Linked DNA regions of Homo sapiens: region 2 is linked to region 1. The links come from fine-mapping of genetic effects on gene expression. Tissue or cell type: whole blood. Region 1 holds a variant in brackets; the other region holds the start of a gene. All regions are shown on one strand. Distances are between the middles of the regions.

Region 1 (5,144 bases):
ATGCTTACCTGAAGACAGTAGTCTCGATGGGTAGGACTTAAATCCAATGTAGGAACTAGAAAAACAGACCATCTAGCTGGGTTTCCAAGCTTTTTTGTGGGCTGCAATACACTTGGATCAAAGGAAATCTTTCTTGAAGGTTAAATATGTAAAACAGTTAAAAAGTAGTGGCCGGTCTGGCATTAGTTGGGAGAGGGGGGAGGGGGTAGGAGGGAAGGAGGGAGGTCTATGCCTATGAAGCTCCTGAAATAAGAAACCTGGGCCGGGCGCGGTGGCTCACGCCTGTAATCCCAGCACTTTGGGAGGCCGAAGCGGGCGGATCACGAGGTCAGGAGAGCGAGACCATCCTGGCTAACATGGTGAAACCCCGTCTCTACTAAAAATACAAAAAATTAGCCGGGCGTGAAAATTAGCCGGGCGTGGTGGCGGGCGCCTGTAATCCCAGCTACTCGGAAGGCTGAGGCAGGAGACTGGCGTGAACTCGCGAGGCGGAGCTTGCAGTGAGCGGAGATGGCGCCACTGCACTCCAGCCTGGACGACAGAGCGAGACTCCGTCTCAAAAAAGAAGAAAGAAACCAGATGCATGTGCCTTCTTTGAGCCAAACCATTACCTCTCTGGCTCACAGCATGTTACTAGATTTGTTCAAAAGGAAAAAACAGAAGTTTCAGCAACCGTACTCTAGGGTTCTGAGGGGGCAGAGTTTGAGAATCCTTGCTCTAGCCCGCCTCTGCTGATTATAAGGGAGAAAACGGCAGTGCTGCTGTTAGGCTGATGTATCTGTTCCTTTCACAGCTTTGGTCATAACTGGTAATTACCATTTACTTGTTCTCAGCCTCCTTGGAACAGCGATCTTGCCTGACACGTGCACCCTCGCACGTGGCACAGTAAGTGGGACACATTAGGCACTCGGAAAATATTTGCTGTAAACATGAAAGAAGGGCGACAGGCTAATAAAGTGTGGAAGGGTTTTGGGGTCAGCACAGCCCCGGGACGTCCCATCCCCGTGGGCCGCGGGCCGCCCGGAATACGACGACTCCACTTGCCGGCGCTGCTCCCGGGATACCAGCGACAACAGCGGCTCAGTCCCGGCAAACGGCGCGTGGCCCCTCCGGCGAAAAGCAGCTATAGGCTGTTGCGGCTGCCAATCAGACCAACAGAGCCGCGACTCGGAGACCTCTGGGAGACGTGGGCCCCCGCTAATCCGCCCTCCAATTGGCTCGCGTGCTCCCGGGGCGCTCTGGGAGATGTGTTTCTGGGAGTGTTCCGCGCATGTGCATGCGTGAGGGCGGGGCGTCGGGGTCGGGCTGGAGTGTCTGTCGCGCCTTATGTGGGCCCCTCGGCAGAAGACGCACTTTCGGCAGAAGCCGCACTTTTGGCAGAAGCCGCCCTGGGTCCTTTCCCTCCCGCAGGCAGGCCGGGACCCCGGCGGGAATTGCGTGCAGGTCGGGTCTCGCTTGACCCCAGCGCCTCCCCGCGTCCGGGCACACTGCGGACAGTTCCTTTTTATTCTCTACCGCTACTTCCTCTTTATCTTCTGCCGCTCTTTCCACACGTCTCCTCCCCCAGGCCGCTTCCCTTTGGGGCGCCGGGCCAGGGAGGGGCTGCCGGACCGGAGACCCCGGACTCGCGCCGGTCTCCGCTCGGGCGTGGGGTCCGTGGGGCGTCGGCGGGAGGGGTCCTGGAGGAGACGGCTGTGCCGGGGCGGGACCCCCTGTCCTCTTAACAGACGCGCCCCTGACAGTCGTGCCAGTCGCCGCCCTGGGCTTTGGGGACGTCCGAGGACGCAGCTGGCGGTTCCTCCCGCGGTTCCCGGCACTGTTACTTCCCCGAATTCCCAGAACAACCCATTTGATAGGAAATGGAAACTGAGAAAAATCGAGTAATTTACTCACGTCACACGGCCACCAGATATTTGAATCTCGTATTTCCCACCACTTCGTGGCTTCCAGGCTCATAAACAAGAAGTTGCAAAACAGGGTGAGGCGTGGGAATGACAGCAGCACGGGGCGGGGAGTGGAAGGGCGGAGCACCTTAGAGGGCAGGATTCAGCAAACGGAACCTCAAAGGAAACAGTGTCAGTGCTGCTGCTTAGTTGGTAAGAAAACAAAGGGCCGGGCGCGGTGGCTCACGCCTGTAATCCCACCACTTTGGGAGGCCGAGGCGG[T/G]CGGATCGCGAGGTCAGGAGTTCGAGACCAGCCTGACCAATATGGTGAAACCCTGTCTCTACTAAAAAATACAAAAATTAGCCGGGCGTGGTGGCGCGCGCCTGTAGTCCCAGCTACTCAGGAGGCTGAGGCAGGAGAATCGCTTGAACCCCGGAGGCACATGTAGTGAGCTAAGATCGCGCCACTGCACTCCAGCATGGGCGACAGAGTGAGACTGCGTCTCAAAAAACAAACAAACAAAAAAAGGGAGTAGCTGCCTTCCAGACACAGTTTTGTTATTTTTCTGCCCCTTTCACTAGCCTGTCAGCCCTTTGGTGGCCGGGGATTGCGTGTCCAAAGCCTGGCTGCTAGTCAGGTTCCTATAAATATTGGTAGGACAGAGCGTATTAAAGTTTTTATTTTAAGATTTTTAAGCACAAGAAAGTTGAGAGAGTAACATGAATACTCACGTACTCTCCACCTAGATTTAATAATCAGAAAAAATTATGTGTGTAGGCCTTTATTTTTTACAAACCCTCTTGTTTAACGTTACCGCCTTCCAAATGAAGCTCATTGGTGAGTGGTGTGGGGATCTATTCAGAGCCCCATGACTGCAGCCCTTCAGCAGGGTTAAGGCCACCTGCCACACCCCACTTTGGGAAGCTGGCTTCCTCTCCTCTCCCTCCGTTTCCAAGCTGCTCAGGAGGTGCCCTCAGAAAGATCAGTTACAATTAGTGTTATCTGCGTAGGGGACTGGGCAGCAGATCTCATTGATCTGGGCTGGGATCGGCAGGTGGGTTGGTCCAAGTTGAGAGGGAGATCCTGCAGAAGCTCTTAGCTGCTGCAGGATTCAACACTAACTCCTTAAGGTAGCAACAAGGGCCCTTTGTAAAATCTGGCCAGAAACAGGTATCTTAGATGCATCTTCACACCCGCCAGTATCCAGTCTACCCTTATCATGTCAGCCCTGCTTTCAGAATCACCCAGAATCTGACCCTTCTGCCTCCACAGTGGTTCAGGGCCCTGCAGTCGCTTTCCTGCATTGTGACAATAGATTGCTTTCTCCTCTCTGTTTCCACCTTTCTCATCTCTTGTCTCTTATGGAAGCCAGAGTGTTCTCTTTTCTTTTCTTTCTTTTTTTGAAACAGTCTCACTCTTTCACCCAGGCCAGAGTACAGTGGTGCGATCACAGGTCACTGCAACCTCCGCCTCCCAGGTTCAGGTGATTCACCTCAGCCTCCAGAGTAGCTGGGACTACGCGCACATCACCACCACACTCAGCAAATTTTTGTATTTTCAGTAGAGACGGGCTTTCACCATGTTGGCCAGGCTTATCTCGAACTTCTGACCTCAGGTGATCCACCTTCCTTGGCTTCCCAAAGTGCTGGATTATATGTGTGAGCCACCGCGCCCGGCCCAGAATGTTTCTTTTAAAGCGTAACTCCAATTATGTCACTGCTCTGCTCAAACTTTCCAGTGTCCCCTCATCTCAGAGTAAGAGCCAAGTCCTTGCTGTGTCCTGGGAGCCCTGCTACTTGATAGGGGACTCCAGCTCCCTCTCTAACCCCTCCATCCACTCCTCCTCCGTGCCTCTGCTCCAGCCACCACTCTTCCTCAAACACTAAGCACAAAGTTACCCCTTTTGCACTCTGTAAATAGGCAAAGACTGCTCATCCTCAAAATGAATACCTGGCTTACTCCTCTTCCTTTGGGTCTCTGTTCAAGCACAAAAGCCTTCTTCAAGTGCCCTATTAAAATATGAAACCAGGGGGCACGGTGGCTCATGCCTGTAATCACAGCACTTTGGGAGGCCAAGGCGGTTGGATCACTTGAGGTCAGTTGTTTGAGACTGGCCTGGCCAACATGGTGAAACCCCGTCTTTACTAAAAATACAAAAATTAGCCTGGCATGGTGGTGTGAGCCTGTAATCCCAACTACTTGGGAGGCTGAGGCAGGAGAATTGCTTGAACCCGGGAGGCAGAAGTTGCAGTGAGCCAAGATAGCACCACTGCACTCCAGCCTGGGTGACAGAGTGAGACTCTGTCTCTAAATAAATAAATAAAAATAAAAAAATATGAAACCAATCCCCTGCACTCACTAACCCTATTATTCTGCTGTTTTTTCCCCCAACTTATCACTCCCTGATACATTGTGTATTTGTTTGTTTATATCAATTCACACTTTCCTATAAGAATGTGGGCTCTTGGCTGGGCGCAGTGGCTCATGCCTGTAATCCCAGCACTTTGGGAGGCCGAGGTGGGCAGATCACAAGGTCAGGAGATCGAGACCATCCTGGCTAACACGGTGAAACCCCGTCTCTACTAAAAATACAAAAATTAGCCGGGCGTGGTGGCAGGCGCCTGTAGTTCCAGCTACTCGGGAGGCTGAGGCAGGAGGATGGCGTGAACCCGGGAGGTGGAGCTTGCAGTGAGCTGAGATAGCACCACTGCACTCCAGCCTGGGCAATATAGCTAGACTCCGTCAAAAAAAAAAAAATGCGGGATCTTCTGAGCCAGGCGCAGCAGCTCACGCCTGTAATCCCAGCACTTTGGGAGGCCGAGGTGGGTAAATCACTTGAGGCCGGGAGTTTAAGACCAGCCTGGCCAACATGGTGAAACCCCGTCTCTACTAAAAATACAAAAATTAGCCAGGCGTGGTTGTCGGTACCTATAATCCCAACTACTTGGGACGCTGAGGCAGGAGGATCGCTCAAACACTGGAGGCAGAGGTTGCAGTGGCGAGATTGCGCTACTGCCCTCCAGCCTGGGCGACTGAGTGAAATTCCATCTCGAAAAAAAAAAAAGAATGTGGCCTCTTCTGAAGGGCATTTATATCAGAAAAAAAAGAATGTGAGCACTGCAAGAAGTTTTTTTCTGTTCAGTTCTGTATCAGTAGTACCTAGAATAGCATCTGGCATACAGCAGGTGCTCCAAGAGTAAATGAATGGCCCTGTGGTGCCTCTTCCTAGCTAGACATGTGTTCAGTATGTCAATTAACCCA
Region 2 (5,144 bases), 29 kb after region 1:
GGTGTTTTGTTTGTTCCAAAAATATAATTATGCATAATATATGTAGCTCTGAAACTTTTTCATGTAATATTTTATGGCCATCCCTCCAGGTGTACATATAGTTCCAATCCATTCTTTTTCATAGCTGGGTAATTTCCAGAGTATGAATGCACCAATTTACTCCTTTCCTTACGTATGAACATGCATGTCATTTCTAGTTTTTGTCACTACAAAGAATTCTACAAGAAATTTGTAGACATCAGATTCACAGATGAGATTGTGAAGGTCAAAGGGTACATACTTGTACTTTTAATTTTAATATATATTACAAGATGACTTCACACACCACACTACCAGCGAAAGGAGTGCCTATTTCTCCACCTTCATTGTTTGATAGGTGAAAAATGTGGTTCCCTTTAAAAGTGATAATCTTGACTAGTAGTGTGGTTAAGCATCTTTTTAAATGTTAATGACCAATTAGTTTTCCTCCTCTCGGGAAGAGCTCCTCATTGCCTTTGCTTTTTGTCAGTTGGCAGGGGTTCATTTTGTCTTAGGAATGTATAATCTTTTGTGTAGCTAATCTTTACAATTATCTTCCAGTCTATTTCTTGTTTGTTAACAGAGTCAAGAAAAAGTTCTTAAAAAATACAATCACACAGGTTTATATTTTACTTCAAGACATCTCAGTTATCTGTTTTGCCTCATAATTCAAACCATAATGCTTTGATTAACGGAGGCTTTTTAGTAAATTTTGATCTGAAAAGGCAGATATTCCTTATTTTTCTAGAATGTCTTGGTGCCACACAGTTTTCATACTCGTTTCTTTGTAACATATTTTAAGCCATCGTCAGCCATTAGTCAGGTATAATTAACTTTAAGAAGAGGCATTCATTTATATTTTTACTTTTGTCAACTTTCTGGAGGCTGGTATTACATCGAGAAATAAGGCCATCCCTGCCCACAAGTTGTCCGAACCCTGATCAGTGCGTCACTGGGGAACGAACCGAGTGTGGATACAACGCACAAACACAAAACTCTGTTCGGCCTCCGTAGGAAGCTGAAATTGAGAAAGGAAACCGAGACAGTAGGAGAAGGGCAATTAAGATGTCTTTAAAAACAAGACGGCCGGTGCGGACAGCAGTGTAGAAGTTAGCAAGCTGGAGTGGGCAATGTCGGTGCCCCATCTCTAACCTATGGGAGTCACCAGAGCGGGGGCGGAGTCCCATGGCGGCCACACCCTGTCCGCCTCCGCAGTCTTTTTACTGGAGAACCGCAGTAAAAGGCGGAAACCGCGGAGGCGTCTTGATTTTCCGGTCGGAGAGATAGCTTGCTTCCTTTAAGCCTCGGGGTAGGGGGGTGGGGAGGGTAGGGGGGTGGGGAGGGTAGGGGGGTGGGGAGGGTAGGGGGGTGGGGGGGTGGGGAGGGTAGGGGGTGGGGGGGTGGGGAGAGTAGGGGGGTGGGGAGAGTAGGGGGGTGGGGAGAGTAGGGGGTGGGGGGGTGGGGAGAGTAGGGGGGTGGGGAGAGTAGGGGGTGGGGAGAGTAGGGGGGTGGGGAGAGTAGGGGGGTGGGGAGAGTAGGGGGGTGGGGGTTGGGGGGTGGCGCCGTGGGGGGTGGCGGGGTGGGGGGTGGGGGGTGGGGAGAGTAGGGGGGTGGGGGGTGGGGAGAGTAGGGCGGTGGGGGAGTGGCGGGGTAGGGGGGTGGCGGGGTGGGGGGTGGGGGGAGCGCGGGCGCTGGGTGGGCGGGGGGTGGGGCGGTGGGGGGGCCTGCCCCGCCCCAACCGCCGCGCCTGACGGTCGTCCATTGGTTGTTTGCATTCGAACTACATTTCCCAGCAGGCCCTGGGGTTAGACTGGCCGCAGCTGGAGAGGTGCCAGCCCGTCGTGGATGACTAGAGCCAACCACCTGCCTTCCGTCTTCCAGGCAGAACCACAGAGAGGCTACAGCCGTCCTGGCCTCCCTCCGGCCCTGAGAGCTCCTCTGGCCTGTCTCAAGTCTTAACGTCTCAAGCGCAGACTGCCGGCTCCGAACGGGGAGACCAGGCTTCTGCACCGGAAACAAGGCACCGGTTGTGACGTCACAGCCGCAGAGCGCCCGACTTCCCAGAAGGCACCGAGTCCCTGCCGTTCTCCTCAACTGGCGGCGGCGCGAACGAATAGTCGCCGGCGACCTGTGAGGGCACTCGGAAGGGCGAGGGGAGGGCTCGACCGCTCGCGCCTAGTTTTTCTATCTCTCCCGGAGCCTGAGTCTCTGAGCCGTCCCCAGCAAACGCTCAGGGGCTGCAGAGGCCCCGAGAGGTGAGGGGCTCCGTGAGGGCGGGAACCAGGCTGAGGCCGCCTCTGGGGAGCGGAGCGTGTCCGTTGCTGAGGGAGCAAGGCCGGGTAGGGAGCCTGGTGAGCGCCTCAGGCAGGGGCGCACGCTGAGCTTTACGGTAAAGGTGTTCCTTGACCAGCGGAAGAGGCCCCAGAGTGAGCCTGGCCCGGCGGTCCTTAGTGGGATGTCGCCTGCCGCTCTCAGCAGAGCTTTGACGGCGGAGAGGAGTCGGCAGGCGGTGTGTGGACACCTCCTCGGCCTTGCATCTGCTCCCCGGGAGAGTCACCAACCGCCTCCCCGCCCAAAGGGCACCGGAGGGAGCTTCGGTTCGAGGGGTACAGTATGGCCAGATTCAGTGACCAACCTGCTTTTAGGCAGATGTCCTCGGTATTGACCCCAGATTTCCTGTCTTCTAGCCCATTGCTCTTTCTCCAAGCCTGATTTAACCTATTCCTGGTGGGTTTTACACACCGTCTTTCTTTCTGTCTTTTCTTTCTTTTTCCTTTTATTTTCTTTCTCTTCCCTGATTCCCTTCCTCCTTCTTTCCTTTCTCTTTTCCTTTCTTTTTTTAGAGTCAGGGTCTTGCTTTGTCGCTCAGACTGCAGTGCAGTGGCGCGATCACAGTTCACTGCAGCCTCGACCTCCTGGGCACAAGCAATCCTCCCAGCTCCCCAGTAGCTGGGACCACAGGCTTGTGTCGCCACGCCCAGCTAATTTTTTTTTTTTTTATGGAGTCGGTGTCTTGCTGTGTTGCCCAGGCTGGTCTTGAACTCCTGGACTCAAGCGATCCACCCGCCAGGGCCTTCCAAAGTGCTGGGATTACAGGTGTGAGCCACCGGTACCTGGCCACACTTTGTATTTCTCAGGAGGCTGGACCTTGGCCTTCTCCGCTCCACCCTTACTCCCTTCCCTTTGGACTTGAGGTTTGCACAGTCTCTGTTTTTCATTCTCAGGATCTTCCTTTCACATCTTCCTAAGCATATCTTGTTCAAATACTGCGTTTCAGTTATGATTTCCCTATCCCAGCTGTCGTTTTCTTTAGATCTCATGTAGCCTCACCAGCCATGCCACATATTGGAGTGCAGTAATGCCGTGCCTGGTCTTTTGGGTAATCCCTGGTTTCTCTGTCTACAGCTTGGCTCTCTGGCAGATTTCCTCTAGTAAGAGGTGGCTCTGGAGGCCCCGCGAAACGAGTGTGGTGTGTGGTTGCAAGGCATGATGGCTGCAAAAGTGGTTCCTATGCCCCCAAAGCCAAAGCAGTCCTTTATACTGAGAGTTCCGCCAGACTCCAAGCTGGGCCAAGACCTACTTCGAGATGCCACTAACGGGCCCAAGACCATCCACCAGCTAGTGCTGGAGCACTTCCTCACCTTCTTGCCCAAGCCAAGCCTGGTCCAGCCCAGTCAGAAAGTCAAGGAGACCTTGGTTATTATGAAAGATGTGAGCTCAAGCCTTCAGAACAGAGGTGAGAAGCACATGCTTGTTTCACTAGAAGAGGAGGAGGAGGTACTGGAGTCTAAGATAGGTTTCTGTGTTAGTTATAAATTCAAGTTAGGATGGTGTATATTGGAAAAGGAGTCAATTCTAGTGTTGGAAAGAGGAAGTTCTTCTCAAGTGCTGGGTGTGAGTAAGGCCACAGAATAAACAGTGTGCATCTTTCTGTAGTGTCAGTTTTACCCAAACATTCTGAGGGAAATATCTTTTAAGGATAAATCAGATGAATTATTGAGTTAGGTTGATGTGGAATTTTAGAAATTTTGTGCTTTTTCTGGGCATCTTCACACTTTACGTTGCCCTAAGCTCTCCTTTAGTAATACTCTATGGGAAATTCTGAAAGGTGCTTAGAGAAGTCATTCTTTTCATAACAGGGAGATGCCATAGGTTCAAGACCCTAGAGTTTATGGCTTGAACTCTATAAGGGCTCACAGGAGCAGAAAAGGCCATGAGTTACCTGTCAAAGGAATGAGGACAGCCTGGCCTCGCGGTATGGGGAGTCTCTGTGTTAGAGTCACTGAGTTTTTCACTAACTAAACCTTCCTCTTTCCCCAGTGCATCCTCGTCCCTTGGTGAAGCTTCTGCCCAAAGGAGTCCAAAAGGAACAAGAGACAGTGTCTCTGTATTTGAAAGCTAACCCTGAGGTGGGTTTGGTTTTCCCATTTACTGCCTGAATCCATCACCTTCCGTGCTTGGCCAACCTGTGTGTAAAAACACATTCTTAGGAGTTGGCCTTCTTGGGTGTTTTTCTTCTGCTTTTTCCTTGAGCCCTTCTCAGCCTGGCTGTCCTGTCTTTGCTGCACCTCTGTGGGATTTATAGGTCCCTCTTGCTATCCCTTCCCTTGATCTTTGTGTGTCAGCTTTTCTTACCAGTAGGGCTGTCAGTGAACCTCAGTTACTAAGATGAAAGGGGCCTCTTGCTCTTTCAGGAGCTGGTGGTCTTTGAGGATTTGAATGTATTTCACTGCCAGGAAGAATGTGTGAGCTTGGATCCTACTCAACAACTCACGTCAGAGAAGGAAGATGACAGCAGTGTCGGGGAAATGATGTTACTGGGTAAGAAATCACAGCCTTTGTGTGTTCAGGTTGTTTGCTTTGGGAAAAGCATGTCCTTCATCTCTTTAGCTTTGGGGGACGATTCACACCTGGTAAGCCTATGTGCACACACACATTTTATTTTACTTTTGTTTTATTCAATGTAGCAGAGCCTTGCCACAGAACTCCAGCTGTGGGTGGGTGGCCATTTTTCCCTGTATCTTGGGGGCAGTGAGGGGAGAGGTAGGGAAAACCTGCAGACATAGAAACTGTGGATATAGAAACTGTTCTGAACCCATTTTCTGAACTCTGTTCTCAACAGGTAT

Evidence for each region. PIP is the estimated chance that this variant, and not a neighbour inherited with it, causes the effect.
Region 2: it holds the start of ZNF200, and the variant in region 1 is fine-mapped to the expression of ZNF200 in whole blood (INTERVAL, PIP above 0.99).

The regions. Positions count from the first base shown.
Region 1 is chr16:3,260,633-3,265,776 of GRCh38, reverse strand. LINC00921 (long intergenic non-protein coding RNA 921) reads right to left here and starts at 2,009. Exons shown (of 2, transcript NR_033904.1): 1 at 9-2,009. RefSeq lists enhancers at 1,029-1,098, 1,249-1,348, 1,789-1,948 and a silencer at 1,589-1,768. The variant T/G (reference allele first, on the strand shown) is at 2,166.
Region 2 is chr16:3,232,116-3,237,259 of GRCh38, reverse strand. ZNF200 (zinc finger protein 200) reads left to right here and starts at 2,102. Exons shown (of 5, transcript NM_198088.3): 1 at 2,102-2,273; 2 at 3,424-3,754; 3 at 4,339-4,427; 4 at 4,713-4,839. The coding sequence starts at 3,505. RefSeq lists enhancers at 1,784-1,993, 2,004-2,063.